Regions from separate parts of the Homo sapiens genome. Here region 1 is linked to region 2. Evidence: fine-mapped expression QTL. Tissue or cell type: fetal neocortex. Region 2 holds a variant in brackets; the other region holds the start of a gene. All regions are shown on one strand. Distances are from middle to middle.

Region 1 (14,939 bases), 28 kb before region 2:
CGCAGCATAGATACTGGCCAGCTTTAGGGAAATTTCAATTATTGCATTGTCCTCCTGTGAGAGAAAGAGAATGAAGGGAACTCATAACAAGTAAATTTTTTCATGGCATATTTCAGATCAACTTCCAGACTGACGGTGGCCTCAAAGCCACAGTCTTTATTCTTTTAGAGTGATGAGCCAACTGTGAATTCCTTGGCAAGCATGCTGTTGCATTTAGTGAAAGAATGGCAATTTGTATAGAGATCTCAGAAGGGAAACTCCACCTTTCCTGACCAAAGCATGTGGTGGGGCTAGGAGGAGTTTTCAGGAGACAAGACTGTTTTGAAAACTGCTTCAGTGAGGGGCCAATACTAGGCAATGTCCTTACCTGCTTCATGCCCCCTCCAAGGAGGTAACTCATTGTTGCTTTAAAAAGTTGTTCAGCCTAAAAGCATAAGGAAAAGATTTTTCTTTTAATTGGGCCCCATTTTATATATATATATATGACCCTGGATTCTAAGTGCCAGTCTGATGCAACATTCCTTGTAAAACCCATATACCCACACACACGCACACTCACACACAGAAAAGTACCCTTTTGAAGCGAAAACAGATCAAAATATCAGGACCCTCAACATCCTCTGTGTACCTTAAACTACTCTCTGATGAGTAGAAAACAACCTCAGAGATTAAGTTCTTATCCAAACCCACTGTGGCAGAGACTACAAACTGTCTCCTAATAGTCATTCTCTTCTCCATCTTTTTGATTACAGAGTCCCCTCGATTTAGCCTGGGAAATATGGTGAAATCCCGTCTCTACAATAAATAAATAAATAAATAAATAAATAAATAAGAAAATTAGCCAAGTGTTGTGGCACACGCCTGGAATCCCAGCTACTCAGGAGGCTGAGGTGAGAGGATCAACTGAGCCTGGCAGGTCGAGGTTGCAGTCAGCCATGATTAAGCCACCGCACTCCAACCTGGGCAACAGAGCAAGACCTTATCTTAAAAAAAAAATTCAGTCAATTTTAGCAGATTGGACACCCTTAAGTTAGATATGGTCATATGATAAAATTTAGGCCAAGGGATGCAGGCAGAAAGAACGTGAACTTCTAATCATGTTTTATAAGGAAGCTGCTCACAGTCCATCTTCTCCCCCTTCCTGCAGACTGGAGGTGAGTCAGCTCACCTAGGCAGAGGAGGGCTTATCTTAGAAGAAACCTGGACTTCTGGATCAGAGAGCAAAGGTGCCTATGTCTGTCTGCCTTCAGTCTTTAGCCTATCTCTGGACTAACACAATAAAGAGAAATACACTTTTATCTTGTTTGAGTCACTATATTCTAGGGTCTCTTTGTTATAGCAGCTTAGCCTGTACTCTTACTATTACAGTTCCCTTGAAGCTACTCCTTCATAAATTCAAGATATTACAAAGCAATTTACTTACATTTTCAAGCTGACCCCGTATAAATGCTAAGTTGGCCATCTGAAAGCAAATTACAAATTGTTTTTCAGTTTAGAATACTGTGTTCCTACTTATTTCAAAACTTTAAAATTCCCTTTTGCTTTCACCCTCAAAATTTAAAAAATAGTTGAAAATGAAAAGCACATCACCAATTAATCTGCAAGAAGAAGCACAGGACAGCAATCATGTGAGAATTAAATACTTGCACATACTTTGTTGTTAACAAACCAAATCTAGGTCCACTCATCATTAAAAAAACATGCTAATGATACTGGTTTTTTTTGGTCTGGAATTGAGAGGTCTTATGTCACCCCAAGGGTAAAAAAACTGAAGCTGTGGCCGGGCGTGGTGGCTCATGCCTGAAATCTCAGCACTTTGGGAGGCCAAGGCAGGTGGATCACCTGAGATCAGGAGTTCGAGACCAGCCTGGCCAATATGGTGAAACCTCGTCTCTACTACAATACAAAATTTAGCCAGGCATAGTGATGCATGCCTGTAATCCAGCTACTCGGGAGGGTGAGGCAAAAGAATCGTCTGAACTCATGAGGCGGAGGCTGCAGTGAGCCAAGATTGTGCCACTGCACTGCAGCCTGGGCAACAGAGTGAGGCTCCATCTCAAAAAAACAAAACAAAACAAAAAATGAAACTGAAGCCAAAAGAAAACTCAGTAAAAAGAAAAGGAGTTTTAGAACATCGTGAAAGTCAGGAATATAAATCAGAAGAACTAACTACCCTTCCCTCCCATCCAACCTTCCTCATCAGTGGTTCAGACTGGTTATAAGAGTTACCAAATCATAAGTGTAAGTGATGGCCTTCTTGTTATCAGTCTGATAGGCGAGACGAAGAGCGTCATGCAAAATTAACTCAGCCTCTTCTGGCTCATCTTTCATAATGCTCAACTGAAAAGGGAAGACAAAATAATAGAAAATGAAACATATAGTAGATGCATATGCTAAGAGACAGAAGTGTATGCAACTGTACATCCCAACTGATAGAAGGAAGCTAACTCATTCATCAGACATTTACTGAATTCCTACTATGTACAAAGCATTGTCTACAGAGATGACAGGGAGGTCAGCCTCCCTTGCAGCTAGGTGTGGCCATCTGATGAAGTTTTGGCCAAGAGACACAGGCAGAAGGAATGTGATCTTACAACATATTTTATAAGGAAGCTGCTTGTCCTCCATCCTCTTTCTAATTTCTTGCAGGCTGGAGGTGACCATATAGGACAAGTAAGCTTAATTACAACTAATGATAAGAGCTATAAAGATGACAGAAAGGAATGATAAGGGGTCTCCTCTAAATAGGACTTAGGGAAGCCTTCCAAGGAAGTGACAGCTAAACTGAGGTAGTAAGGATGAGAATGAGTCAACCAAATAAGGACCTGGGGAGAACAATGACTCAAACAGAGGGTAGAGAATGAGTGAAGTCCCTACAAGCTGAAGAGAATGGTTTTGAGGAAGAAATGCAAAGAAATAGATGTGAAGGGAGGATGGTGAGCCAGAGGATTACTGCCAAATGGGTGGGCAAGGTATATGCTGGTTTAGATCATGTGGGGTGTTGCAAGCCAAGGCAAGGAGTTTGTATTTTATCATAAATGCAGTGGGTAGCCATTCAGAGCTTTCTGACAAGGAGATGACATAATCCAATTTACTCTTTTTTTTTTTGGTCGCTTTGGTTTCTGCATGGAGAATAGATTGCAAGAGGCCAGGAGGCCAGGAAAGACTACTGGAGCATAGTTGGTGGCAATGATGGTTTGCACTAGGGTGACAGCAAGGGAGATAGACAAAAGGGGAAAGATTTGAGAAATATTTTGCATTTGTTGGCAACAGGACTTGTTGCTGGACTGTAAGTGTATTGGAAGGCAATGGTAAGGTACCACAAGTTTTAAGAATGACTATGAGGTTTTTAGGCTGAAAAACTGATGGTAGTAAAGAGATGGCGAAAGCGTATGTTGAGGAGGCATTAAAGATCGTTTAGTTTTGGGCATGTTAAATCTGAGAGGTAGGTATGGTCCTAAAGTGCAAATGGCATGTCAGTAGCACACTACAGAATGGAAATACAAATTTGGACGTTGTTGGCATCGAGTAGGTATTTAGCTCAATGGAAGAGATGAGATAACTTGGGAAAAGAGGAGGAAAAAAAAATAGAAAAGGATGTGGAGAAAAGGAAGAATTCAGGAGGAGAACCGAACCGCATAACCAACACTAAGTTGCCATTTTCAGGCCGCTATATACGTGCGAAATTATGTCATTTCAGATAGGCTGGTTAATTGATAAAACCACTACAAAACGTTCCCGATATTTCGTTTGCATAAAGCGTGATGCCTAGGGCGCCATCTCCATTTGCACTTGACACTGCAGAGGTTTTACTGCAGGCCTTAGAGTCGGAAAAGCCTGGATGGATTCCAATCCCCTCTCGGATGACCCACCTCATTCTCGGCAATTTTACCCGCGGAGCCTCCATCCACTCTTCGGCGAGGCGGAGAGAGTAATGCGCAGCAACGCCAAGACCCCGCTCACAAAGGCTACCGCGCTCGGCCGGGCGCAGGGCCCGGAGCCGCCTCACCTTGGCTCGCTTCAGCAGCTGGATGATCTCTGCCTCGGCCTCGTCCGCCCCGTCCTCGGCAGCGGCCCCGTCGGCTCCCTGCTGCTCCTCCTCCTCTGCCGCAGCGGGCCTCGAGAACCAGGCGAGCGCTGCGGGAAGGGGCTCTGAGGTCATCGGGCCCGGCCCGCGCCCCTGTCCCCGCCCGGCCGGCCCCGCCCGGCCCGCGCCCCTCACCTGCCAGCAGCGGCAGCAGGCCTGGGCCCCGGCCGTGCGGCGCGACTCGGGATGGCGGCACCTGCACCTCGGGCCCCGGACCTCCTGCCAGCCCCGGGAGCAGGCGCGCGGAGCAGCCCCGGCACCGCCGCCCCGCGGCCCGCAGGAAGCCTCGGCCCAGGCTCCAGCTCAGGAGCCGGAACATGCTCCCGCCGCGTCCTCTGCGCACTGCAGGCCAGACGCGCTCCTGGCCCCCGACCACGCGCCGAGCGCCCTCCGGATTGGCCGGGCCCTGACGACTGAGCAGGACATCCCTGCGTCCGCACGCGCGATGACGCGCCCCGACGTCACTCCGTCTCGCCCTGCCCCGGCGGGGGGTCAGGATCCTCCACAGGTAGGCGCAGTCAGCTGGAGCGTCGCGGCGGTCCGCCGGTCGTGGAGGGCGTGTCCTGCGGCGCGATGGCCGTAGTGTTGCCGGCGGTTGTGGAGGAGCTCCTGAGCGAGATGGCGGCGGCGGTGCAGGAGAGCGCGCGAAGTACGGGACCGAGGTCGTGTGTGGCTGCGCCATGGGCGCGGGCGGGGCATCCGGGCACCGCCGGGCCGGGAGGCAGGAGGCGGGGTGTCCGGGCCTGGCCCTGCCTTTTTTCCATGTGGTTCTCTAAACCTCTTGTTCGTAAAAAGACAAAAAAACAAAACAACAAAAAAGCGAAATTGGAACAAGTAAAAGTCAAATCGATTCAGCAAATATTTACGGTACAGCGCAGTTGCAGGAGCCCCTCCGTCGGAGCGAGTAGGCCAGTGGGGACCGAAGTGCTGAGAGCTGGCCGGGTCGCTGGGAGGGGTCCCCGCCCGGGGGTGGAAGGGACGGGAGCCTACAGTGAGTGATAGAAACGTGGAGTTCTTGATTATTTTACACGAAATTTTGAATTATTAAACTTCTTTTTCTCAAATTCTGATGTTAACATTAAAGTTAATGCTTCCATACACTTTAAAAAGTAGGCCCAGCGCAGTGGCTCACTCCCGTAATCCCAGCACTTTGGGAGGCCGAGGCAGTTGGATTACCTAAGGTCAGGAGTTCGAGACCAGCCTGGCCAACATGGTGAAACTTCGTCTCTACTAAAAATACAAAAAATTAGCTGGGCGTGGTGGCGGGCGCCTGTAATTCCAGCTACTCAGGAGGCTGAGGCAGGAGAATCGCTTGAACCCGGGAGGCGGAGGTTGCCGTGAGCCGAGATCGCGCCATTGCACTCCAGCCTGGGCAACAAGAGCGAAATTCCATCTCAAAAAAAAAAAAAAAAGCATTTTAAGAGCCACAAAACCTAAATGCATATGCAATCGTTGGAGTAAATCTGGGTATTGTGAAAGCACCATTTTTTTTCTGACCAGCAGAGGGTACTCTTTGGCTATGCTCACCAAAATCACTTGAGAAGGGTTGATCTCAAGATGTGTTCAGAGTATGCTAGGATAAGATCAAATCAAATTTGATATACTCAAAATGCATTGACTAATGAACTACTCTTAGGATGTAAAAATGGCCACCTTATAAATAACAGCCATATCAGGCCCCCAAACTGCCATCGCTTATTCAACTTGGATGGCTTTTGTTTTAAAAGTACTGTACTGCATTTTGAAAGGGTTTATCTTGAGTTACTGTTTTTAAGGAACTGAGAAAAATAAGCCAACTTTGTTTCCTCATCTCAGTCAAAATTAAGGAGACTTAAGTATATGTGCTTGAAAGATTAGTGCAGCCAAGTATTCAAACATACTTGTTTCCAAAAAGGATGGGAAAAAAGCCAACTGATGTTAGCTTATACAATTGTTCTGGGCTCTCAGATTTGATGGCCTGAGGGTTTGGAATGCTGTCACTTTAAACAATAATCGCCAGAACTGTTCTGTGTCTGAATAGGTTAATCCATACACTGACAGTAGTTTGGGTTGGTTTGTTTTTTTTTTTTAGACAGAGTCTTGCTCTGTCTCCCAGGCTGGAGTGCAATGGGCGATCTCAGCTCAGTGCAACCTCCGCTTCCCAAGTTCAAGTGATTCTCCTGCCTCAGCCTCCCAAGTAGCTGTGACTACAGGCGCATGCCACCACACCCGGCTAATTTGTGTATTTTTAGAAGAGACGGGGTTTCACCATATTGGCCAGGCTGGTCTCAAACTCCTGACCTTGTGATACGGACACCTCAGCCTCCCAAAATGCTGGGATTACAGGCGTGAGCCACCGTGCCCAGCCAGTTTTGGGTTTTTTCCCTCCAACAAGAAGGTTCACAAGACACATTGACAGTCCTGAAGGGGGCATAATCATTGCCCCTGACACCCATGGTTCAGACACAGGAACCAATGCTGTTGATTCATGTTTATTTTCAGAAGCCCTGTTTTCTGTCTTTTTCAAAATCTTTTTTCTATTAATATATAGTTATGCACCCTTCCTAACCCCCATTCTTCAGTGGTAATTTTTTTAGATCAAGATTCCAAGTTTTATTTGTATGATGATATATAAACTAGTCACAGTGGAACCATGTAGGAAGCTATGATTACTTTTTGTTTTCTTTGTAACTTTTGGATTTCCCTGGAGTTACAACTATCTTGGTTTTGTTTATGTGCTTATTTAGTTTTTTACATATTTATTCCTACTTTAACCTCACATCCTTTACTAGTGTTCTCAATCTCCCCTCAAGATGTTCAGATGAACGAAGTATGTTATCAGTTTCACCTTCCTGAAGACATCTCTAGAGCCTTCGGACTTGCTTAATATGGACTGGCTGATCTCTCGGCTGTTTGCTGAGATCTCTCTTAACCATTATTATCTGGGAATTCTCTGTATCTTTGTTGGGTCCTATGTTTAGTATATCCTACAGTTTTCTTTTTCTCAGTTTACTACCTCTTTTTTTTTTTTTTGAGACAGTCTGTCACCCAGGCTGATGTGCAATAGCATGATCAAAGCTCACTGTAGCTTTGACCTCCTAGGCTCAGATGATCCTCCCACCTCAGCCTCCCAAGTGAGTATCTGGGACTGCAGGCACACAATACCACAGCTGGCTAGTTTTTTGTATTTTTTGTAGAGACAAGGTCTCACTATGTTGCCTAGGCTGGACTCGAAGTCTGGAGCTCAAGAGGTCCACCTGCCTTGGCTTCCCAAAGTGCCAGGATTACAGGCATGAGCCACCGCACCCGGCCCATGTAAAATTTTTTTTTTTTTTTTCGAGACAAGGTCTTGCTCTGTCACCCAGGCTGGAGTGCAGTGGCACAATCATAGGTCACTGCTCCCTCAACCTCCCAGGCTCAAGAGATCCTCTTGTCTCAGCCTCCTGAGTAACTGGTACCACAGGTGTGCACCACCATGCCCAGCTAGTTTTTGTATTGTTTGTAGAGACGGGGTTTCACTGTGTTGCCCAGGCTTACTACCTTATATTATGGCACACAGACTCTGCCAGCTTCCTGAAGAAGGGGGCATGAGATGTACCTTTTGAGGCTTTCTTTTCTATTTTTTGAGACCGGGTCTCACTCTGTTCCCCAGGCTAGAGTACAGTTGCGCAATCACACCTCATGCCCAGCTGATTATTTTATTTTCTGTAGAGACGGGTCTTCCTTTGTTGCCCAGGCTACTCTGGAACTCCTGGGCTCAGGCGATCCTTCTGCCTTGGCCTCCCAAAGTGCTGGGATTATAGTTGTGAGCCCCCACACCGGCCCCTGTTTGAGGCTTATGTCTGAAAAAGTTGTGGGGTTTTTTTGTTTTTTTGGGTTTTTTTTGAGACGGAGTTTCGCTCTTGTTGCCCAGGCTGGAGTGCAATGGTGCAATCTCTGCTCACCGCACCCTCTGCCTCCTGGGTTCAAGGGATTCTCCTGCCTCAGTCTCTCGAGTAGCTGGGATTACAGGCATGCGCCACCATGCCCGGCTAATAGTTTTTCTATTTTTAGTAGAGATACTAAATGTTAGTCAGGCTGACCATCGCGCCCGGCTGAAAAAGTTCTTTTTCTGCCCTTACACTTAAGTGATTGTTTGTCTAGGTATTGAATTATTTGTTGGAAATAATATTTCTTCAGACATCTGAAAACATTTTTCCACTACATCTTAGCTTCTAGTGTTACTCCTGATTTTTGTATGTGACCTTTTTTTTCTCTGGAAGTTTGAATTATGTTTTCTTCATAACCAGTGTTCTGAATCTTCTGATAAAGTTTTTTTTTTTTCACTTCACAGTGTGGGCACACAGTGGGCCCTTTCAAGCTAGAAATTCATGTCCTTCAGCTGTGGGGAATTTTGAATTATTTGATTGATGAATTCCCTCCATCTGTTTTCTCTGTTCTTTCCGGTATTTCTGTAATTAAGTTACTGGATGTCCTCTGTTGTCCTTCTGGTTGACTTACTGTGGCTTCTGTGTTGCTTTTATATTTTCTCTACTTCCTGGGAACTTTCTTGAACTTTATCTTCCAGATTTTCTGTTGAATTTCTGCTGTCTTTTTTTTTTTTTTTTTTTTTTAAGAGACAGGGTCTTGCCGGCCACAGTGGCTCATGCCTGTAATCCCAGCACTTTGGGAGGCCAAGGTGGGCAGATCATCTGAAGTCGGGAGTTCGAGACCAGCCTGATCAACATGGAGAAACCCCGTCTCTACTAAAAAAATTAGCTGGGCGTGGTGGTGCATGCCTGTAATCCCAGCTACTCTGTAGGCTGAGGCAGGAGAATTGCTTGAACCCGGGAAGTGGAGGTTGCGGTAAGCCGAGATTGCGTCATTGTACTCCAGCCTGGGCAACAAGAGCGAAACTCCGTCTCAAAAAAAAAAAAAAGAGAGACGGGGTCTTACTGTGTTGCCCAGGCTGGCCTCAGACTCCTGGTTTCAAGCAATCTTCCTGCCTCAGCTTCCCAAGTAACTGAAACTACAGAGACATACCATGTATTTTTAATTTATAACTTTTTTTCAGAAGATTCCCTTTTTCTTCTTATTATGCCTTCTGCCTGTTTTTGTGCCTGTTTTATGATTGCATTAACTTTTTTCTGATGATAAAATATTAGTAATAGATGTTTAAAATTTTCTCCTTTCTGCAGTTTTTCCTCTAACTTTCTTCTGTTTGTTTTATTCTATTTCCTTTTTCCTTTGTTGTCTGGTAACCCTTGGCTGTCTAGTCATATTTCAGAGTGGAAGACTAAAAAGTATATTGGAAGCTCTGGGTGGTAGAGGGGCTTACGGAATATGAACGTCACTATAGTTGTTCTCAGTAGGCTATTTAGTTGGGGAAACCATTTCAGTGTCATTCCCACTTCTCTTGGGGTATACCTAGGGAAGACTTCCAGTCTCCTGGCTGAAGTGTGAAGGCCTGATTGCTTGTGTTATGGGAGCCATGTTAGGGAAGAGAGCAGGAGATCCTGTTTTCAGTGTGACACCCTGACTTTCACTGTACCTAGTATTTTTCCCTAGTCCAAATAGCCTGTGTTTGAACCTCTCCAGAAAATAAACCTAGTCTCTTGCCAGAATGAGGGAAAGGCAGTCACCTAAAGCTGTGGAGGGAACTGGGGTCCCACTACTTCTCAAACGTACTCGAAAAGAGTCTTATTTTCATATCCCTGTTTCACCCCTAATGAAGCTATTTGGTGCCACCAATTCGTTAGGGTTTGGGGAAGGGGAGAGGTGGATTTTGGAGTGTAACTCAGGCTGGTGCTTGACTCTCCCCATTGCTGGCCTAGGATTCAGTTTTCTTAGGTCTTATAAATCATTTTCCACTCTTCTATCAGCTTCCAATGTATCATGGCTGTTGTTTCTCCCTGTCTTTCTCATCCTTTGGAATTCATACTTTTAAAAACAAATCTGGCCGGGCACGGTGGCTCATGTCTATAATCCCAGCACTTTGGGAGGCCAAGGCCAGTGGATCACTTGAGGTGAGGAGTTCAAGACCAGCATGGCCAGCATGGTGAAACCCCATCTCTACTAAACATACCAAAAAAAATTAGCTGGGCATGGTAGTGCATGCCTGTAGTCCCAGCTACCTGGGAGGCTGAGGCAAGAGAATGGTTTAAACCCGGGAGGCGGAGGTTGCAGTGAGCTGAGATTGCACCATTGCACTCCAGCCTGGGTGACAGGACAAGACTCCGTCTCAAAAAAAGAAAAAGGAAATCCTTTTATTATGGTTTTAGTGGGGTTTGGGGAAGGAGTAAAACCAGATGCATAGGTTCAGTTGACCATCACACACGGAAGTGTTTTTAGTTACAGTGTTTTTTAAGATTTTTATGTCAATGGTCACTGCTTAATATGATTAACTTTTTTTTTCCATTCTCATTTTACAGTTCCTGATGAATATCTGTTATCGTAAGTACATATACTGTTGTATTTGATTTTTTTTTAACCATTAATGTTAAAATCCTTTCAACATCAACTCTTGATTTTTAAAAATACTCTTGACCGGGCGCAGTGGCTCACGCCTATAATCCCAGCACTTTGGGAGGCCAAGGTGAGTGGATCATGAAGTCAGGAGATCAAGACCATCCTGGCCAACATGGTGAAACCCCATCTCTACTGAAAATACAAAAAATTAGCTGGACGTGGTGGTGGGCACCTGTAGTCCCAGCTACTCAGGAGGCTAAGGCAGGAGAATCACTTGAACCTGGGAGGTGGAGGTTGCAGTGAGCCAAGATCATGCCACTGCACTTCAGCCTGGGGACAGAGTGAGACTCTGTCTCAAAAATAAATAAATAAATAAATAAATAAATAAATAAAATAAAAAATAAAAATATTCTTACTACCAGGCACTGTGACTCACACATGTAATCTCAGCACTTTGGGAGGCAAAGGCAGGAGGATTGCTTGAGCCCAGGAGTTCGAGACCAGCTCTAGCAAAATAGGGAGACCCCCCATCTCTACGAAAATAATTTTAAAAATAGAATAAAAGGCCAGGCACCGTGGCTCACACCTGCAATCCCAGCACTTTGAGAGACTGAGGTGGGTGGATCACTTGAGGTCAGGAGTTCAAGACCAGCCTGACCAACATGGTGAAACCCTGTCTCTACTAAAAATACAAAAGTAGTGGGATGTGGTGGCACACACCTGTAATCTCAGCTACTTGGGAGGCTAAGGCAGGAGAATTGCTTGAACCCGGGAGGTTGTGGTTGCATATCTCGCTGCGATTGTGCCATTGCACTCCAGCCTAAGTAACGAGCAAAATTCCATCTCAAAAAAAATAAAAAATAAAAAATACTCTTAGAAACTAGGAATAATATTTTCTTGACATGATTCTTAAAAATTTGTCTCAATTGAATAGCCAACACCATATCCAGTATTGTCATATTTGCCACTCTTATTTAACATTGTTTTAAAAATTGTGGCTGTTGGCCGGGCGCAATGGCTCACGCCTGTAATCGCAGCATTTTGGGAGGCCGAGACGGGCGAATCACCTGAGGTCAGGAATACAAGACCAGCCTGACCAACATGGAGAAACCCTGTCACTATTAAAAATACAAAATTAGCCAAGCATGGTGGTGCATTCCTGTAATCCCAGCTATTCGGGAGGCTGAGTCAGGAGAATTGCTTGAACCTGGGAGGCAGAGGTTGCTGTGAGCCAAGATCATGCCATTGCACTCCAGCCTGGGCAATAAAAGCGAAACTCTATCTCAAAAAAAAAAAAAAAAAGCGTAGCTGTTCAACTAACACATGAAAAAGAAATTACAAATGTACCTATCTGCAAGGAAAGACAATTATCATTATTTGCAGTTGATACAACTACTTAAATGAGAATAATATAGAGTGGTCAGTTATTTTAAAAATGCAGAGACCAAAAAAGTAAAAGCTACCTAGGTATAAGTAATACTTAATTACTGATACACACTTACATTTAAAAATCCTGGCCAGGTGCGGTGGCTCACGCCTGTAATCCCAACGCTTTGGGAGGCTGAGGCGGGTGGATCACCTGAGGTCAGGAGTTCGAGACCAGCCTGACCAACATGGTGAAACCCCGTCTCTACTAAAAATACAAAAATTAGCCGGGCATGGTGGCAGGCACCTGTAATCCCAGCTATTCGGGGGGCTGAGGCAGGAGAATCGCTTGAACCCAGGAGACAGAGGTTGCAGTGAGCTGAGATCATGCCATTGCACTCCAGCCTGGGTGACAGAGGCAAGACTCTGTCTCAAAAAAAAAACAAAACAAAACAAAACAAACAAAAAAAAACAAAACCTGTCCCAGGAGGACTGTTTGAGCCCTGAAGTTCCAGGCTGCAGTGAGCTATGATTGTGCCACTACACTCCAGCCTGGGTGATGTGAGACCTTGTCTCTAAAAAAATAAAAGTTCTGAAGAATATATACCAAGCTCTACCAGTGTTTTTTCTTTGGGGCAAGGAAGGAGGTAGAATTGAGGGAACGGCCTTAACCTTTACTGTATTTCTTAAATTTTTAATAAGAATTAAATATTACTGGAAAAAAATGTACTACTTTAAAAACAAAAGGGCAAAGAATAAAAGATGTAAATAGCCGAATCCTTTGGGAGGAAAAAGACAAATCTTACTAGTGACCACAAAAATACAAATTAACATAACATAACTTTTCATCTAGAAAATTAGTGACCACAGAAAAGAAGTTGACACAAATATGGGGAAAGGGGTCATTTATAACAGGAATGTAAATTGCAGGGTAACAGGCAATAGGAACTTTAAAACATACATATTCTTTGACCCAGAAATTCCACATAAAAGAACATATACCCAGGAAGTAATTATAGATGTTTGTAAAGATTTTACAGTGAGGATATTCTCAGTGTGATGAATATCCAGTATTGTTTATGGTAGCAATAAAACATAGAAACAATCTAACAATTCATGGAGTTTGAGGAGAATAAAAATGATTCATCTTTACAGTAGAATTATTTGTAACCATTAAAAGTGATATGGAAAAATTTTTAATGCATTCAAGAGATGTTCACAGTAGGTATTAAAGTGGACAGAGCAGGTTAAAAAAATTCTTTTTTTTTTCAGACAGTGTCTCACTCTGTCACTGAGGCTGGAGTACAGTGGCGCGATCTCAACTCACTGCAGCCTCTGCCTCCCAGGTTCCAGTGATTCTCCTGCCTCAGCCTCCTGAGTAGCTGGGACTACAGGTGGCACACACCGAGGCAGGTGGATGATGAGGTCAGGAGTTCCGCCTGCCTTGGCCTCCCAAGGTGCTGGGATTACAGGCATGAGCCACCACACCTGGCCTTAAAAAAATTCTTAAAGGTAACTGTTGAGATTGATTGGTAAGGTTCCCGACAAATTTTATTTCATTGTTTTTTGTATTTTGTTATTTTATAGACTAAATCTTCATATGTTTAATATAAAAATTCAAAGCACTCTTTTCTATTTCCCCCAATAATTTGTTGTATATGTGGCTGGTTTGTTGGAAAATGAAGTAAGAAGTTGAACATTTTAATTTTGAAGCCTTACTAGGTTTGTCTTACTCTGTGTTAAGTCATATAAGTTCTTTAAAACATTAACTTTTCAGTTTGAGTTTAACCCTGCCATTTTATTTTCTAGTTTATAAAAATAACCCACACTTAGGCCGGGTGTGGTAGCTCATGCCTGTAATCCCAGCACCTTGGGAGGTGGGATGCGCCTGTAATCCCAGCTACTCGGGAGGCTAAAGCAGGAGAATCACTTGAATCTGGGAGGTGGAGGTTGCAGTGAGCAGAGGTCGTGCCACTGCACTCCAACCTGGGCAACACAGTGAGACTCCAACTCAGTAATAATAATAATAATAATAATAACCCACACTTATAAAAAACTTTTATTGGAAAATAAAACCTATAAAAAGCATCAATAATCATACCACCCAGTAATAATCACTCTTAAATTTTGGTTTATTGCTTTTTTTTTTTTTTTTTTGAGACAGAGTTTCGCTCTGTCACCCAGGCTAGAGTGCAGTGGCGCGATCCCGGCTCACTGCAAGCTCCGCCTCCCGGGTTCACACCATTCTCCTGCCTCGGTCTCCCAAGTAGCTGGGACTACAGGTGCCTGCTACCGTGCCCAGCTAATTTTTTGTATTTTTAGTAGAGACGGGGTTTCACCGTGTTAGCCAGGATGGTCTCGATCTGCTGACCTCGTGAGCCACCTTCCTCGGCCTCCCAAAGTGCTGGGATTACAGGTGTGAGCCACCGCGCCTGGCCGGTTTATTGCCTTTTCAAAAAATTAAATTTTGGCCAGGCATGGTGGATCACGCCTGTAATATGAGGATCGCTTGGGGCTGGGAGTTTGAGACCAGCTTAGGCAGCACAGGGAGACCCTGTCTCCACAAAATCAAAAAATTAACTGGATGTGGTGGTATATACCTGTAGTCCCGGCTGCTAGGGAGGCTGAGGTGGTGGGAGGATCACTTGAGCCCAGGGGGTTCAGGCTGCAGTGAGCCATGATTGCACCACTGGAATCCAGCCTGCCTGGGTGACAGAGAGAGACTTTGTCTCAAAAAACAAAAAACAAACAAACAAAAAGGCCAGACACGCTGGCTCACACCTGTAACCCCAGCACTTTGAGAGGCCAAGGCGGGGGGATCACCTCAGGTCAGGAGTTCAAGACCACCCTGACCAACATGGCAAAAGCCCATCTCTACTAAAAAATACAAAAATTACCTGGGCATGGTGGCCTGCACCTATAATCCCAGCTACTCAGGAGGCTGGGCCGGAGAATCTCTTGAACCCCGGAGGCAGAAGTTGCAGTGAGCCGAGATTGTGCCACTGCTCTCCAGCCTGGACACCAGAGTGAGACTCCATCTCAAAAAAAAAAAAAATTAAAC
Region 2 (15,398 bases):
TTTTTTTTTTTTTTTTTCTGAGACAGAGTCTCACTCTGTCACCCAGGCTGGAGTACAGTGATGCCATCTGGGCTCACTGCAGCCTCCGCCTCCCAAGTTCACATGATTCTCCTGCCTCAGTCTCCTGAGTAGCTGGCACATGCCACATACCCAGCTAATTTTTGTATTTTTTAGTAGGGACGGGGTTTCACTATATTGGACAGGCTGGTTTTGAACTCCTGACCTCGTGATCCGCCTGCCTTGGCCTCCCAAAGTGCTGGAATTACAGGTGTGAGCCACCATGCCCGGCCGAATAATTATACTTTTAATTTTTGAGGTCACCTTCCTGGCAACAAGTATACATTTTTAGTACAGTCAACTTTTATTTTTCCATTGCCTCTAAGTTAAAAAGTATTTGCATTATAATAGTTCACACTGTTTCACAGTAAAATAGTTTCAGTAATTTTCCACCATAAACAAGGCAGACTTTTAAAAACAAAAGAGTCTGTTAGAATCCATTCAAGCTGTTGGCATAATCCACACAGTAAAAGCAGCTGAATAGATCATAAATATATTTGTCAATCCTTGGAGCCTACTACTGACACATACATATTAGCTAGATACGTGGTAGCTCCAGGGAAGTGCTCAAGAGAGGCAGTCCATTTCCTTGTGAGGTGTAGCTATCTTTCACAATGAAAACCAGCCGTGTCCTCTTTGTTTCTTGTGGATTTGTATCTTCTCCTGGAAGAGGCGAGAGCCTAGATCATAGGCCCACACCGAGAGCAGGCTGTACCCCAGCCTGACCATTCCCACTCTTGACATCTGCTTGGCAGAGAAGATACCTGGAGATAATTTTGTGAAAAGTGTAGCGGAAGTCTCGGTTCCGGTAAGCATAGACAATGGGATTGACAACTGAATTGGCATGTGACAGAAGAATGGCCATATTCATTGCCCACTTGGGCTTATTTTTACCCTGAGCTGGCTGGAAAAGAGTGACACAGTTAACAGCATGCACAGGTAACCAGCACAGGGCAAAAATCCCCACAATCATGGCCAGTGACTTGGCTGCATGGATCTCCCGCTGGAGGGTGGTCCTCGAGTGGTCCATCAGCTCAGTGCGCTGAAGCTGCCTGCAGGCCACCAGGAAGATCTTAATGTAGATCACCAGCATTATAAGCAGTGGGGGCAGAACACACCCAAAGAAATTGAAATATACCATGTAGCTCATGGGGACCACATTCTCAAAGAGACACTTCACAAGGCAGCAGCTTTCATTCGTGGTTCCATCCCAGGGTTCTGTGCAGTTGTTGGTGGCACTGTCTTTACTGTTCCACCCCAGGAATGGAGTCAATCCGATGCCAAAGGCAAGGACCCAGAGGACAGCAATGACCCCTCTTGCTCGGGTCCCCGTGACCAAACTTTTATACCTGTTTAAAAGAATACCATCTGTTACGGTCAGTTTATAGCGCTCTGCAACCACAATCCAAGACCCCACCTCCTCTTTTTTCCATGACCCTTTAACAACCTCTAAAGTTCACCTTCCAGGGCACTAAGGCCTTTACCCTCAATACTAAAGACATGCAAGCAGGGATGAGCAGCTTTGCTCTAGAAAACTCAGTAAGATCTTCATTCTTGACTTAGCAACTCCTTTCTGTTTAGTGACACAGGATGGCCAATGACAAGAGGTGGGGAAGCCTTAAGGGAGTACTGTAAGTCCTCAATGTCCTCGGTGGGTTCTCAAACTGTGACTTGAAGTATATGTCATAGGAAGTTAACTCTTGTTTATATTGTTAAATCAAGTTTAGCCTAAAGCTGCCTCCTTACATATTTTAAATTTGGCCTAAAGGTTTCTCTGTACATCGTGGACTACAACAAGTGGACGTGTAAACAGACTATAGCCTGCACTCATGCCAATCCTCGACTTTTGGCCAATCAAATGTGGCCAACTGTTCGAACCCTGTTCAAAAAGGGCAAATGCTGAGCTATAACCAATCCAGCTGTTTCTGTTCCTCACTTCCATTTTCTGTACGTCACTTTTCCTTTTTCTGTCCATCACTTTCTTTTTTCTGTCCATAAATTATCTTCCACCACGTGACTGCACTGGAGTCTCTGAGCCTGCTTTGGCTCAGCAGGCTGCACAATTTGTGAATCATTCTTTGCTCAATTAAGCTCTTTTAAATTGAATTCAGCCGAAGTTTTTCTTTTAACAGTATCAACTGTGGTAAAATTGGCTTTGTTATACAGTGCATCATTTTGCTTCAAGTCACAGTTTCCAAAAACCGATCGACTTCCTATACTTCCTACCTACCTAGGTACCGCTCTTTGAGTCTAGGTCTTCTGTAAGGCATTGTTCTAGGTCAGTGGTCCCCAACCTTTCTGGCACCAGGGACCAGCTTCATGGAAGACAATGTTTCCACAGACCAGGGGCGGGGGGTGATGCATTAGATTCTCATAAGGAGCGCACAGCGTAGATCCCCTGCGTGCACAGTTCACAATAGGGTTAGCTCCTATGAGAATCGAATGCTGCTGATCTGACAGGATGCAGAGCTCAGGCAGTAATGCTCGCCTGCCTGCTCACCTTCTGCTGTGTGGCCCAGTTCCTAACAGGCCACGGACCAGTACTAGTCTGCAGCCCAGGGGTTGAGGAACCCTGTTCTAAGTGCTTGAGATACATCAGTGAACAGAACACACAGAGATCCCTACTAAATTTTAACAGACTCAGATCTAGCAGGGGTAAACATAATAATAAACAGTATGGAGATATATGTGGTATGAAACATGAAAAAGCAGAGTAAGAAAGATCAGGATGGGCAGGACTGTAGTTTTAAAGAGGCTGACATCATGGATAAGGTGACACTTGAACAAAGGCCTGAGGCAGTAAGCACTGGAGTCAGCACCACCTGTGGCTCCAGGCAAGGATCTTTCTGGCTTCCCACAAACACCACAAGACATTTGCCTAGGACTATGGGCAGAATCATTTCTGAATACCTCTGCAGACTGCTGGAGAACAAGAGTCTAGCAGTGCCCCTGTCTACTGAGAAATACTAGCAGCAGAGTTGATAAAAATTGGGAAATAGCAAATATTAAATTTTTTGGTCATCTTCAAGCCATTAGATCACAAGTTGGAGACCAGCCTGGGCAACATGGTGAAACTCCATCTCTACAAAAAAGTACAAAACTTAGCCGGGCACGGTGGTGTATATCTGTGGTTCCAGCTATTTCGGGAGAATGAAGTGGGAGAGTCAGGATCACTTGAGCCCAGGAGGTTGAGGCTGCAGTGAGCTGTGATTGCACCACTGCACTCCAGCCTGGGTGACAGAGCAAGACCTTATCTCAAAAAAACAAACAACAAAAAAATACTAGAAACCACTACTGGGGATACCAATACAAAGGGACAAGATCCTAGTCCTTAAGAGGTTTGACCAGTATCCAGTTGAGAGATACAACATGTATCAGATAAGCAGGCTCTATGACAAGTGAGTTATGGGGCAAGAGAATGGGAGCGGCCACCTCTGCCTAAGAGGTGACCAAGAAAGGAAGTGACCTTATAAGAGCAACAGATGCCATAATATCCCTTTTAGACATTTTGCTATACACTAGTCTATCCATGGTTTATAGCAAAGGTACACATTTTGTTATTAACAACTGGTCCATAATACATATGTAATGTATAAATGAACATAATCAATGTAATGTATTAAGTAAATGAAATAAAATCCTTCTGTAATCTCTGGAAGAGAAAACTGGGAAATAATTTGATTGACATTACCTGAAGACTTGCCCATGGGAAGTGTTTGTTTGCTTTACCTGCAGTGTAAGACGTATACTTCCCAGCATGGCCGCAGAACCCCCCAGCCTCGGCTCCACACGTCCAGTGCCTGCCATTCTTAACCAATGGCTCCCTCTGGCTCATGCTATTCTCAACATCAGACAAAGCATCTGTTGCTCTTAAAAGGTCACTTCCTTTCTTGCTCACCTCTTAGGTAGAGGTGGCCACTCCCATTCTCCTGCCCCATAACTCACTTGTCATAGAGCTGGCTTATCTGATACCTGTGGTATCCCTCAACTGGAATGTCAGCCTCTTAAGGACTAGGACCTTGTCCCTTTGTATTGGTATCCCGAAGACCTAGCACAGTTCCCAGCACATAGTATGTTCTTAATATGGCCATCACAGGCCAGGCATGGTGGCTCATGCCTATAATCCCAGTACTTCAGGAGGCCGAGGCAGGCGGATCACTTGAGGTCAGGCATTTGAGACCAGCCTGGCCAACACGGTGAAACCCCGTCTCTCCTAAAAATACGAAAATTAGCTAGGCATGGTGGTGGGCACCTGTAATCCCAGCTACTCAGGTGGCTGAGACAGGAGAATTGCCTGAACCTGGGAGGCAGAGGATGCAGTGAGCCGAGATCATTACACCATTGCACTCCAACCTGGGCGACAGAGTGAGATTCCATCTCAAAAAAAAAAAAAAAAAATGGCCATTACAAATACATTCATCATTTATTATCTGACTTTATTAGGCAGCTTTAAAGAAAGATTCTACTTACTAGGAATACTTGAGGTTGCAGCCTGAACAGGCAGAAGAACCAGTCGTTTGCTGAGGAAGTTAGCTGAGGTCTTGCCTCATAATTTACAATGATCTCTAATCTTTTCTACTCCCTCTTAGCAACAGGCAGCTCAATCATGGGCCCCTATACTACAGAAGACCTGCTGGGCTCAGTTTTTTCACTGAATTTGTCTTGGCCAGTGAATTCATCTGTTTCCCACCTCATTCAGGAATGTAAAGCCTTCCTTAAAAACAGTTGTTCTCTGCCATTGCCTCACTGGAGATGTGAATAACACAATTAGTCCCTGCAGCATAACAAGGAAGCCTCCCAAAGGCGGAGTCCTAAGAATCACAGAACTTCAGGTCCATGAGGCAGCCCATGCAGCAGCCTGCCCTTACTCCTCCTTTGTTCACAGGACTAAGCTGTATCGAGTACAGCGGGTAACAGGTCAGCTCTGGGGGATGAATTTATGTTTGGGATAAGGAAATTATGGCACTTCCATTCTCATGATTGGTCTAGTGGATACATGAAGTGGTTCTGGCCAGTGAGACATACAAGGACATCTGCTAGGGACCTCCAGGAAAGATTTTACTCCCTGATGAAGAGAGAGGGACCCATAAGGACAGCTCTGCCCCATGACCATCCTTTTCTGCTTTTGATGCTCTTGTGGAAGGGTGTGATGCCCTCAGCTGTAGCAGCCACACTGTGACCATAAGGGACAAGCCTGGAGACAAAGCTGATGGCAAAGCAGAAGACAATAGTAGAGCCTGGGTCCTTGATGACACCTTTGAACCACCTGACTAACCCTAGAACCATCACAGCTCCATATTCTGGTTTCAAAAGATAATTAAATGTTTCGATTGCTGATAACACTGTGAGGTACTCCGTTAACACAGCCAAACTGGAGAGGACTTTTATCTTTCTAGTCCAATCTCTCTTATTTCACAAATAAGAAAAGAAAACAAAGAAAAGAAGAACAAAGCTAATACACAAACCAAAGACCAGAAGCTAAATCAGTACTCACAGGCCTGTGTTCCTTGCACTATGTTATGCTGCCTCTTTTTTTTAAAGCGATTTTATATTTGCAGCACCCTGTACATAGAGGCTCATTCATAGGGGTGGCTTCCTACTAGAGTTCAGAACAACAACTGGAGTCCACCCCATCTGAACTTCTCATAGCTGCTGGATCCGACACATGTGCAAAACTGTCATGCCTTCTCTTGGATAAGGAAAAGCAGCTAATTAAATCAGTGGGGCAGCTGGTCACTGCCTTCTCTGTAAACCTCCATCACCACCACTCTTCCCTGTTGGTTCATTAGTTCATTCGAAGAGTTTTTCATTTGTACCACACATTCTGCTAGGCACTGGAAACACAATCACTGCCCTTGTGGAACATAAGCTAATGGGAAACACAGAAAATAAGTAAACATATAAATACGAAGTTATGAATTGCGACGGGTTCCGCTATACCAAAATGAACTGGATGCACTGAGAAGAGAAACATGGAGGCCTTGGATACAGGATGTCAGGAGGCCTTTCAGGCAGAAGCTAAAGGTTGAGGAGTGAGAAATTTGAAAAGTAGAACATACCAGGCCGAGAGAACAACATGTGCTGCTTTCATGCAGGAAAATGAGCCCAAGATGAGGCAGGGGCCAGTTCATAGGCACCGGGACCCATGGAAGACTTTTAAGCAGGGGATGGTACTGATTTCTGTTGTATAAAGGTCACCTGGCCAGAGTACGGAGACTGAATTTTAGGGGAGCCAGAAGAAAAGCAGAGAGATCAGCTAGGAAACTATTTCGGTAGTTGACTCGAGACAACGTCGGCTTGGGCCAGGGTGACAGCAAAAATGATGGAAGTGGATATGCGCTGTGGAGGCAGAACCAACAGGTCTTGCAGATCAACAGGTGCAGGAAGATGAAGACTGGAGGATGATTCCTTAGGGTTTCCCCCTACGCATTTGCATTTCCTGAAAGAGAGGATTAAAGGAAGAGTGGGATAAAGATCAAGAGAATGGTGGATGCGGGCACACTGCTGAAAATGATCAGTAGAGAAGATGCAGGAAAAAGGGACAGATTATTATTATTATTTTATTTATTTATTTTGAGACAGAGTCTCACACTGTCGCCAGGGCTGCAGTGCAATGGCGCGTCTCAGCTCACTGCAACCTCTGCCTCCTGGTTTCAAGCGATTCTCCTGCCTCAGCCTCCCGAGTAGCTGGGACTACAGGCGCCCACCACCACACCCGGCTATTTCTTTTTTTGTATTTTTAGTAGAGATGGGTTTTCACTGTGTTAGCCAGGATGGTCTCGATCTCCTGACCTCGTGATCCGCCCACCTCAGCCTCCCACAGTGCTGGGATTACAGGCGTGAGCCTCCACGCCCGGCCAAAGGGACAGATTATTAAAGAAGGTAAGAATGGGAGGAGGTGGAGGATGCAGGGTCCAGGGCATGTGGGGAAGGACACTTCCTCAGCTGCAGTGGAAGGAAGGACAAGAACAGCGCCAGTGCAGGGAGTGGGACAGTTGAGTGGTGAGAAGATGGGCCAGCATCTCCTTGAGAACTGCTGTTACCTCAGAGAAGGATGGAGAAAGTTATCAGCTGAGGCAGGGGAGGAACCGCACAACCAAACCCCAAGTTTTGGTGACAGATGCCTGCACACCCTCCCCCAGCTGTCCGGACACATCCATGGCACAGCTGCCACCGCCTATGCACCTGCTATTTGGGCAGCTCTGGGCTGTGGACCCCTCACATCTCATCAAACCACGCCTCCTGAGGTGAGAGCTGCTATCCTCAGTTTACAGACGTGGAAGCCAAGGCTCAGAAAGGCTACATGATGTGCCTGCTGCTGCTAAACTGCAGTCAGGACACAGACCTCATCTAATCTGATTCCAATTTCGCCCCAAACTGCCATTTTCCTGCATAGGAATCTACAGCTCTTCCATGTTCAACTCACAAATTCCAGCTCCCTCCTCCGCCTGACCACACAGCCATAGGTCAGCAGCTTGAAGACTTGAAGGAAGGGGCTTCTGCCACCCTCCTGGGAGGCAGTCCTCAAGGACAGCAAAAAGAGGCATGCTGGAGGACATAACCAGACCCCTCAGCACAACCTCTGTAGGAAGCGGAGTGTGCTCTGCGATGTTATGGTATGTATGTATAGTCACCTCACCGTATGTACACACAGGGGGTTGGTTGCAGGATCCCCATGTATGCCAAAGTCCTCACATACTGAGGTTCCGCAGTCAGCAGCCCTCCGTATATGTGGGTTTCACATCCCAGGAATACTGCATTTTCAGTCATGTTTGGTTGAAAAAAATCCAATACAAGTGGACCTGCATAGTTCAAACCTGTGCTGTTCAAGGGTCAGCTGTGTTGGCTTTGGTCCACAGTTCCTGGCACATAACTCCCATAGCCCTTGTTACTTCTCCCCAAGACAGGCCATGATAACTAAAAATATATCTTCCTCTGTCTTTCTGTCTTGGAGCTGTCCATAAAGAAATTCTCTGATCTACCTTGTTTGATTGTGACTCATAAGACCCGCATTTCAGAAGGGGTCCTGCCCCTCCCCTAGAAGGAGCCGCACAGAGAGGCCAAGAAGCATTGGAACAGATAGGCTTTGCTGAGTTTCCCCATTCAGCCTGTCAGTCTGAATCATGCCTTTTCGTCCACTCACACTGCCACCCAGTTGTCCATGCTTGAGTCATGTCTATTCAATGGAGAATCCAAAAAAGGGCTACGACGAAAAGGTACGGAGAGCTACAGGACAGCCAAACACATGGAGGTTCCTGAAGGATGGTGCACCCAAGGAGGGCATGGAAACGCCTCGCTCTTTCTCACACCTCACCCTGGTCTATGTCCTTTGTAATATCATTTTTTGTTTTGTTTTGTTTTTTTGAGACGGAATCTCACTCTGTCGTCCAGGCTGGAGTGCAACAGTACAGCTGAGGAAGTGTCCTTCCCCACGTGCCCTGGCCCCTGCATCCTCCACCTTCTCCCATTCTTATCTTCTTTAATAATCTGTCCCTTTGGCTGGGCGCGGTGGCTCACGCCTGTAATCCCAGCACTTTGGGAGGCCGAGGTGGGTGGATCACCTGAAGTTAGGAGTTCGAGACCAGCCTGGCCAACGTGGTGAAGCCGTCTCCACTAAAAATACAAAAATTAGCCGAGTGTGTTGGCGCATGCCTGTGATCCCAGCTATTCATGAGGCTGAAGCAGGAGAATTACTTGAACCCAGGAGGCGGGGGTTGCAGTGAACTGAGTGAGATTGCACCACTGCACTCCAGCCTGGGTGACAGAGCGAGACTCCATCTCGAAAAAAAAAAAAAAGGCAAGCAGGTGTCCCTGCACTGGGCAGGACACTGGAAGGAACGAACCCCTGGGGACTCTGGCATCTCAGGAGGGCTCTGGTAACCACCTGCCACGCCCTCTCCTTTCCCACTTCCTGCTGGGCCTCTGTCCTCTCCCCAGGCCAGTCTCCCTCCTCGGCCCCACCCCTTGCTGCAGACTCTGCCTCCCTCCCTGTGCTCCGAACACCCTCAGGTCTGCATGCGTTTGTCCATCTCCCCAAAACATTCCTGAAGGGCATGGGCCACGTCCTTCCGTCCTTCCGTTCGCCAGCCCGTGGCAGTCACTGCTCTGCTGCAGAGGTCACTGAGCACTGCAGTGAGGCCAGGGAAGCAGGACAACCGCCCCAAATGTAGGAGAGTGAATAACAGGCGACTGAAAAGTGAACACAGGAAACACAGGCAGCTTTATTATTCCAAACAAGGCAGAAACAATCCCAGCCTTTGCAGGCCCACACAACAGGGGAGTTCTGGGAAAGTCCACACTCTGGGAAATGGCTATGCCCCACCACTGTGTACGGAGCTGTGCTCTGATCCATCCATTCTCCTTATAAGGAGCTCATTAGCTAAGGAGATTGACAGAAAAACAGTCACACGGAGGGAATCAACAAAAGGAAACAGCGTGAACACTGAGGTTACGTAAGGAAACGGGGAACCGCCAAGGCCTGCATAACAAGCACTGGCCTATTTCTGGGGCAGGGTCTCCTCCTGCACTGGCTCTGTGGCCCTCAGCTCAAACCAGGCTTAGAAATCAATTCCCAGCTCTCAAGGTGCTCCTAGTATAGATCAAGGGCAGCTACCTGGGGAGTGACATTGAGCCTGGCCAGTCCAGCCACAGGCTGGATGGAGCCTGAGCTTCCCATCGGAAACACTAGCCCCAGAACCCGCCTCCAACCTGCTGCTGAGGCTTTTAACATAGACGGAATGTGTACAAAGCACTTTAGAAATGCAGATTGCTAAGTAAATGCACACAGAGTTCTACTGCCGCTTCTTAAAATTGTTTCCTGTTTGTTTTAGGGATGTTTCTTCCGTTTATAGTCTATCTAGCTCACAAGCTTTAAATTCCTCTGAAATACATACATTTCTGCTATAAAGCAATATATACATTCTTAGAAAACCTCATGTTATCTTATTCCACATATTAACAGGACTTCTGTGAAACATGGGGCTAGAGCAGACCACTCAAACCTACAAAACATTGTCACTAGAGCACTAACAAAATCTTTTGGGACACCCAGGCAGGCAGTTCAGTGGGGCAAGAGGCTGCCACCATGGATATTAAAACTGCACCAAAAAAGTCAAATAGAAAGCCTGGCAAACTTTAATTAGAGCAAGGCTGACAGGTGCCAAGACAGTGCAGATGAAAGAGGAGTTCTGAGCCAGGGGGCTGTTACTAAGATGGGCCTGGAGGCAGCGTAGCCTGCCACGGCCAAGACCCCAGCAGGCTAGGATGTGGCTTTCTACGGGAGTGCCAGCTGCAGGCACTGTTTTTTTCTTGTTCCCAGGAGCCCACAGGGGCTCCTGCGGCAGAGCAGTCAGAGGGCTTTTTCCTTTCCTGCTGAACACTGTCATTCTCCTCCCACTATTCCACCTCCTTTGCCTAGGCAAAATCACAGGTGAACCAAAGCAGTGTCTCCATTATACCAACATCCTTCCCCTGGCCACCTGCCACGCGTGAATTAATTCACAGTACAGAAGTTCACATGGAAGCAGAGCAGCTTATCTGCCCCTGAGCTCTCAGGGCAGCTCATGACCACCCAGAGCACCTCTCCCGTGTACCTACCACACAACTGCATTTTCTGTCTCTTTCCACTGAAGGATGAGCTCCTCCATGGAACAGACTCACAGCTGTATCCAAAACACCTAACACTGCCTGGCAAGCAAATGGTGAGAGAAAGCCTGAGTTTATAAGAAGGGAACAGAACCCTGCCTTCTTAATCAAAGAAACATGTTGAACACCCACCTGGGACTTGGGAGTTCTAAATAAAGCAAGGCATCAACATCAAGTGCATGAACATGGTTTCAGCTTCAGCTTATAAACCACTAGAGGCTATCTATATAAGAGGGGATATTGTTATGACGAGCTTCTGAGCAGCCTCCCATTTTTTCAGATTTCCCATGGGATCAAACTATGAAATTTTGTTTGTTTGTTTTTGAGACAGAGTCTAGCTCCGTCGCCCAGGCTGGAGCGCAGTGGCACGATCTCGGCTCACTGCAAGCTCCGCCTCCCGGGTTCACGCCATTCTCCTGCCTCAGCCTCCTGAGTAGCTGGGACTACAGGCACCCGCTGCCACACGGGCTAA[T/C]TTTTTGTATTTTTAGTAGAGACGGGGTTTCACCGTGTTAGCCAGGATGGTCTCGATCTCCTGACCTCGTGATTCGCCCACCTTGGCCTCCCAAAGTGCTGGGGTTACAGGCGTGAGCCACCGCGCCCGGCCAGATTTTTTTTTTTAATATTCATCTATTTTTCAGATTTCCTATGGTACCAAACTATAAAAGGTTTTTTTTTTAATATTTATGAACAGAAAAATAAATAGAAATTTTAATAGCACTATAACAATTAAAAAAGTAGAATTCATCTTTTCTTTTTTTTTTTTTTTTTGAGACAGAGTCTTGCTCTTGTCGCCCAGACTGGAATGAAGGTGCAGTGTCATGATCTCGGCTCACTGCAACCTCCACCTCCCAGGTTCAAGCGATTCTCCTGCCTCAGCCTCCTGAGTAGCTGGGATTACAGGCGCCTGCCACCACACCTGGTTAATTTTTTTGTATTTTTAGTAGAGACAGGGTTTCACCATGCTGGCCAGGCTGGTCTCGAACTCCTGACCTCTGGTGATCCGCCAATCTTGGCCTCCCAAAGTGCTGGGATTACAGGTGTGAGTCACAGCGCCCAGCCTAAAATTCATCATTTTAAACCTTCCCACAAAGAAAACTTTAGGCCTAGATGATTTCACTAATTCTGCCAAACATTTAAGGAACAAATAAAACCATTCTTACACAAAAACAACAATAAAAAAAGTAGATACTATTAGATTTTACTTATATGAACGGGAAGCAGGCCTCTCTGCCATCTGCGTCCTGAGGGCAAACCACCTTATCTCTGCAGATGGGCACGGCTGTAGCCTGCAGGCCAGTCTGAGGAAAGGACAGCATCTGCCTGCCCACTGGATAGCAAGGTGTGGTCACCAAAGGTTACTTTCAGGCCGAGTCTTCCCAGGAGGCCCTGGCCCCGGGCTGCTCTGGCTCCTGTGGGGTTCTCATCTACTCCAGCAAGTTCAGACATGTCTGAATTCCAGTGATGGACCTGGCTGGGCCTGAGCTGAGCCCACTGTCTTATGTGAAGGTGGCTGGGAGAGATGCCATTTGTCCTTCACAGTCCCCTAAGAACAAAAGATGAGCAATGCAGGTTGCGGTCAAGAAAGTTGGCAGCACTCCCAACCAGCTTCCTATGGCAAGAAGAGGCAATCCAAGGTGGTCCACCAGTGATTCAACCAGTTGAGACTGAGGTTAGGGGCCAGGACCAGGTCTCCCAGAGTTCCCCTTTGGGCCTGGTGATTCTCATGTGCTGTTTTCATGGATCACATGGGACACAGAGACAGCCCAAAGCTACTGGGCTCCAGACTCTGATCTCCTTCCCATAAAATAAGCAGTCCCTGAGAGAAAGGGCTCCTGCCTGGAACCAGACCAAAAGATAACAGGACACTCTGTCCTCTGCCCCAAAAAGTGCCCTCCCAAGGCTGGGGTTACGGAGCACTGCCTCAGATGTGACATTAACTGTCAAAAGCATCAGCCGCCATAAACACAAGCGACCAGCAAGAGGGGTACATGAGAAGGCACTTGGTTGATGTGGTGTCTGCCAGGTTTCTCCATCATAACTTTCCCATTTTAATTAGCAGGTATCTTGTGGTACGTGTTTGGGGACTGTAAGTATCTTACTCCTCATCAAACTTTCACCTACAAGTTTTAGCACCTATTGATGATTCTTGCCTGAATCAGTTCTTACTATGACAGTCGTGAAATGGTGATTTGCTTAACTCAATCATTCCTTTTCATTAATTAGATGGCATTGTATTATAAGCAAGAGTTCTTGTAATTCACTATTTTTTATTAAAAAAAACCTCCTACCTCTGTTTATTGCTAGGGCCCAGAAAAAAGGATACTCCAGTAGCACTGAGCAAATCTACCCAAATCTTGGTTTTTATATATAATTCTCCACTAAAAGGAACCAAGACTCTTTGGAAAATGGCTAGTACTCAAACTGGAAACTACAATGTGAGCCTGGAATACCTTTCTATGCCAAAATATAAGAAAGTGCTCAAAAACAATAGGAACACTCAAACAGAAGTGACCTTGTAAGGGCCCTCTCTCACTGGCTGAATTTGGGCATCAAAATAAATAACAGGGGCCGGGCGCGGTGGCTCATGCCTGTAATCCCAGCACTTTGGGAGGCCAAGGCGGGTGAATTGCCTGAGGTCAGGAGTTTGAGACCAGCCTGGCCAACACGGTGAAACCCCGTCTCTACTAAAAATGCGTGGTGGCAAGGCGCCTGTAATCCCAGCTACTCAGGAGGCTGAGGCCACAGAATCTCTTGAACCTAGGAGGCAGAGGTTGCGGTGAGCTGAGATTGCGCCATTGCACTCCAGCCCAGGCAACAAGCGCGTAATTCTGTCTCAAAAAAATGGAAAAAATAAAAATAAATAAATAAATAACAGGAATGGATTATAACTCGTTTAATGAAAATAAAATTCTGTAAGTCCATACTGACATTAATAAAATAAGGAAGGGCAAGGAGAAGCTAAAGCTTGTCTTTACAGAAGAATGCAAACTGATAAATGTGGAAGGAATGAGGAAAAAAAAGAAAATTACCAATTTTGTTTTGTTTTGTTTTGTTTTGTGTTGTTGTGTCTTGTTTTGTTTTGAGACGCAGTCTTGCTCTATTGCCCAGGATGGAGTGCAGTGGCGCGATCTTGGCTCACTGCAACCTCCGCCTCCCGGGTTCAAGCAATTCTCCTGCCTCAGCCTTCCGAGTAGCTGGGATTACAGGTGCCCACCAACATGCTCAGCTAATTTTTGTAATTTTAGTAGAGATGGGGTTTCACCATGTTAGCCAGGATGGTCTTGAACTCCTGACCTCAAGTGATCCACCCACTTTGGCCTCCCAAAGTGCTGGGATTACAGCCATGAGCCACTGCACCCGGCCTGAAAATTACCATTTTATAATCACCGTGGTTGCTGTGATTTGAATGTGCCCCCCGAAGTTCATGGGTTAGAAACTTAATCTGCAATGCAACAGTGCTGAGAGGTGTGACCTTTAAGAGGCGATCAGGTCATGAGGGCTCTGGCCTCAGGAATGAATTAATGTCACTATCATGGGAGTGGGTTTTTTATCTTAAGAGTGGGTCTGTTATCTTGAGAGTGGGTCTGTTATAAATGCAAGTGCAGCCCTCTCTTGCTTGCTCACTCTCTCACCTCTCTTACCCTCTCACTTTCTGCCATGGGATGATGCAGCCAGAAGGCCCTCGCCAGATGCTGGCACCTTAATATCAGACTTCCCAGCCTTCGTAACTGTGAGAATGTATTTGTTTTCATTATAAATTATGCAGTCTGTGGTATTCTGTTATAAAAGCATAGAATGGACTAAGACAATAGTAGTAACTCATTCAGGCAAGAATCATCAATGGGGAAAACATACCCTTACAGTGAAGAACCCTGGCAGACACAACCTTTACCATGTGATCAGATTTATACCAACAATGGGAGAAACAGACATTGTGTCCTTCTTACTTAATGGACTGACTGAGGATGCAGCACCACTCATGTAGACAGTATTGCCACCAAAAAGGTTTAACCTGAATGTAACCATAAGGAAACAACCAAACTCAAATTGAGGGACATTTGGCAAAATCACCTGAACTCAAAAATGTTAATTTTTTTTTTTTTTCCCCAAGAAAAGGTCTCACTCTGTTGCCCAGGCTGAAGTGCAGTGGTACACTCACTATTGTATTAGGGTGATGCAAAAGTAAAAGTAATAGCAGCTTTTGCCTTTTTTTTTTTTTGACAGAGTCTCGCTCTGTTGCCAAGGCTGGAGTGCAGTGGCATGATCTTGGCTCACTGCAAGCTCCGCCTCCCAGGTTCACGCCATTCTCCTGCCTCAGCCTCCTGAGTAGCTGGGACTACAGGCACCCGCCACCACGCCTGGCTAATTTTTTGTATTTTTAGTAGAGACGGGGTTTCACCATGTTAGCCAGGATGGTCTCAATCTCCTGAACTCGTGAATCGCCCGCCTCGGCCTCCCAAAGTGCTGGGATTATAGTCGTGAGCTACTGCGCCCAGACTTTTTTTTTTGAGACGGAGTCTTGCTCTGTCGCCCAGGCTGGAGTGCAGTGGCATGATCTCGGCTCACTGCAACCTCTGTCTCCTGGACTCACGCCATTCTCCTGCCTCAGCCTCCCGAGTAGCTGGGACTACAGGCACCCACCACCATGCCCGGCTAATTTTTTTGTGTGTGTTTTTAGTAGAGACGGGGTTTCACCG

What was found.
Region 1: ZSWIM7 starts here. The variant in region 2 is fine-mapped to the expression of ZSWIM7 in fetal neocortex (Walker 2019, PIP 0.95).

What each region holds. Positions count from the first base shown.
Region 1 is chr17:15,989,316-16,004,254 of GRCh38, reverse strand. ZSWIM7 (zinc finger SWIM-type containing 7) reads left to right here and starts at 4,551. Exons shown (of 5, transcript NM_001042697.2): 1 at 4,551-4,736; 2 at 10,477-10,498. The coding sequence starts at 4,661. TTC19 (tetratricopeptide repeat domain 19) reads right to left here and starts at 4,431. Exons shown (of 10, transcript NM_017775.4): 1 at 4,223-4,431; 2 at 4,010-4,137; 3 at 2,230-2,340; 4 at 1,424-1,462; 5 at 368-424; 6 at 1-54. The coding sequence starts at 4,406. RefSeq lists silencers at 4,078-4,467, 4,818-4,977 and an enhancer at 4,588-4,677.
Region 2 is chr17:15,960,687-15,976,084 of GRCh38, reverse strand. It overlaps ADORA2B (adenosine A2b receptor), which reads right to left. Exons shown (of 2, transcript NM_000676.4): 2 at 339-1,406. The coding sequence ends at 743. Among named protein-coding and RNA genes, the nearest start is that of ADORA2B, 23 kb to the right of the region's middle. RefSeq lists enhancers at 7,023-7,771, 8,022-8,606, 8,607-9,193, 9,194-9,779, 9,780-10,366 and 1 more. The variant T/C (reference allele first, on the strand shown) is at 11,174.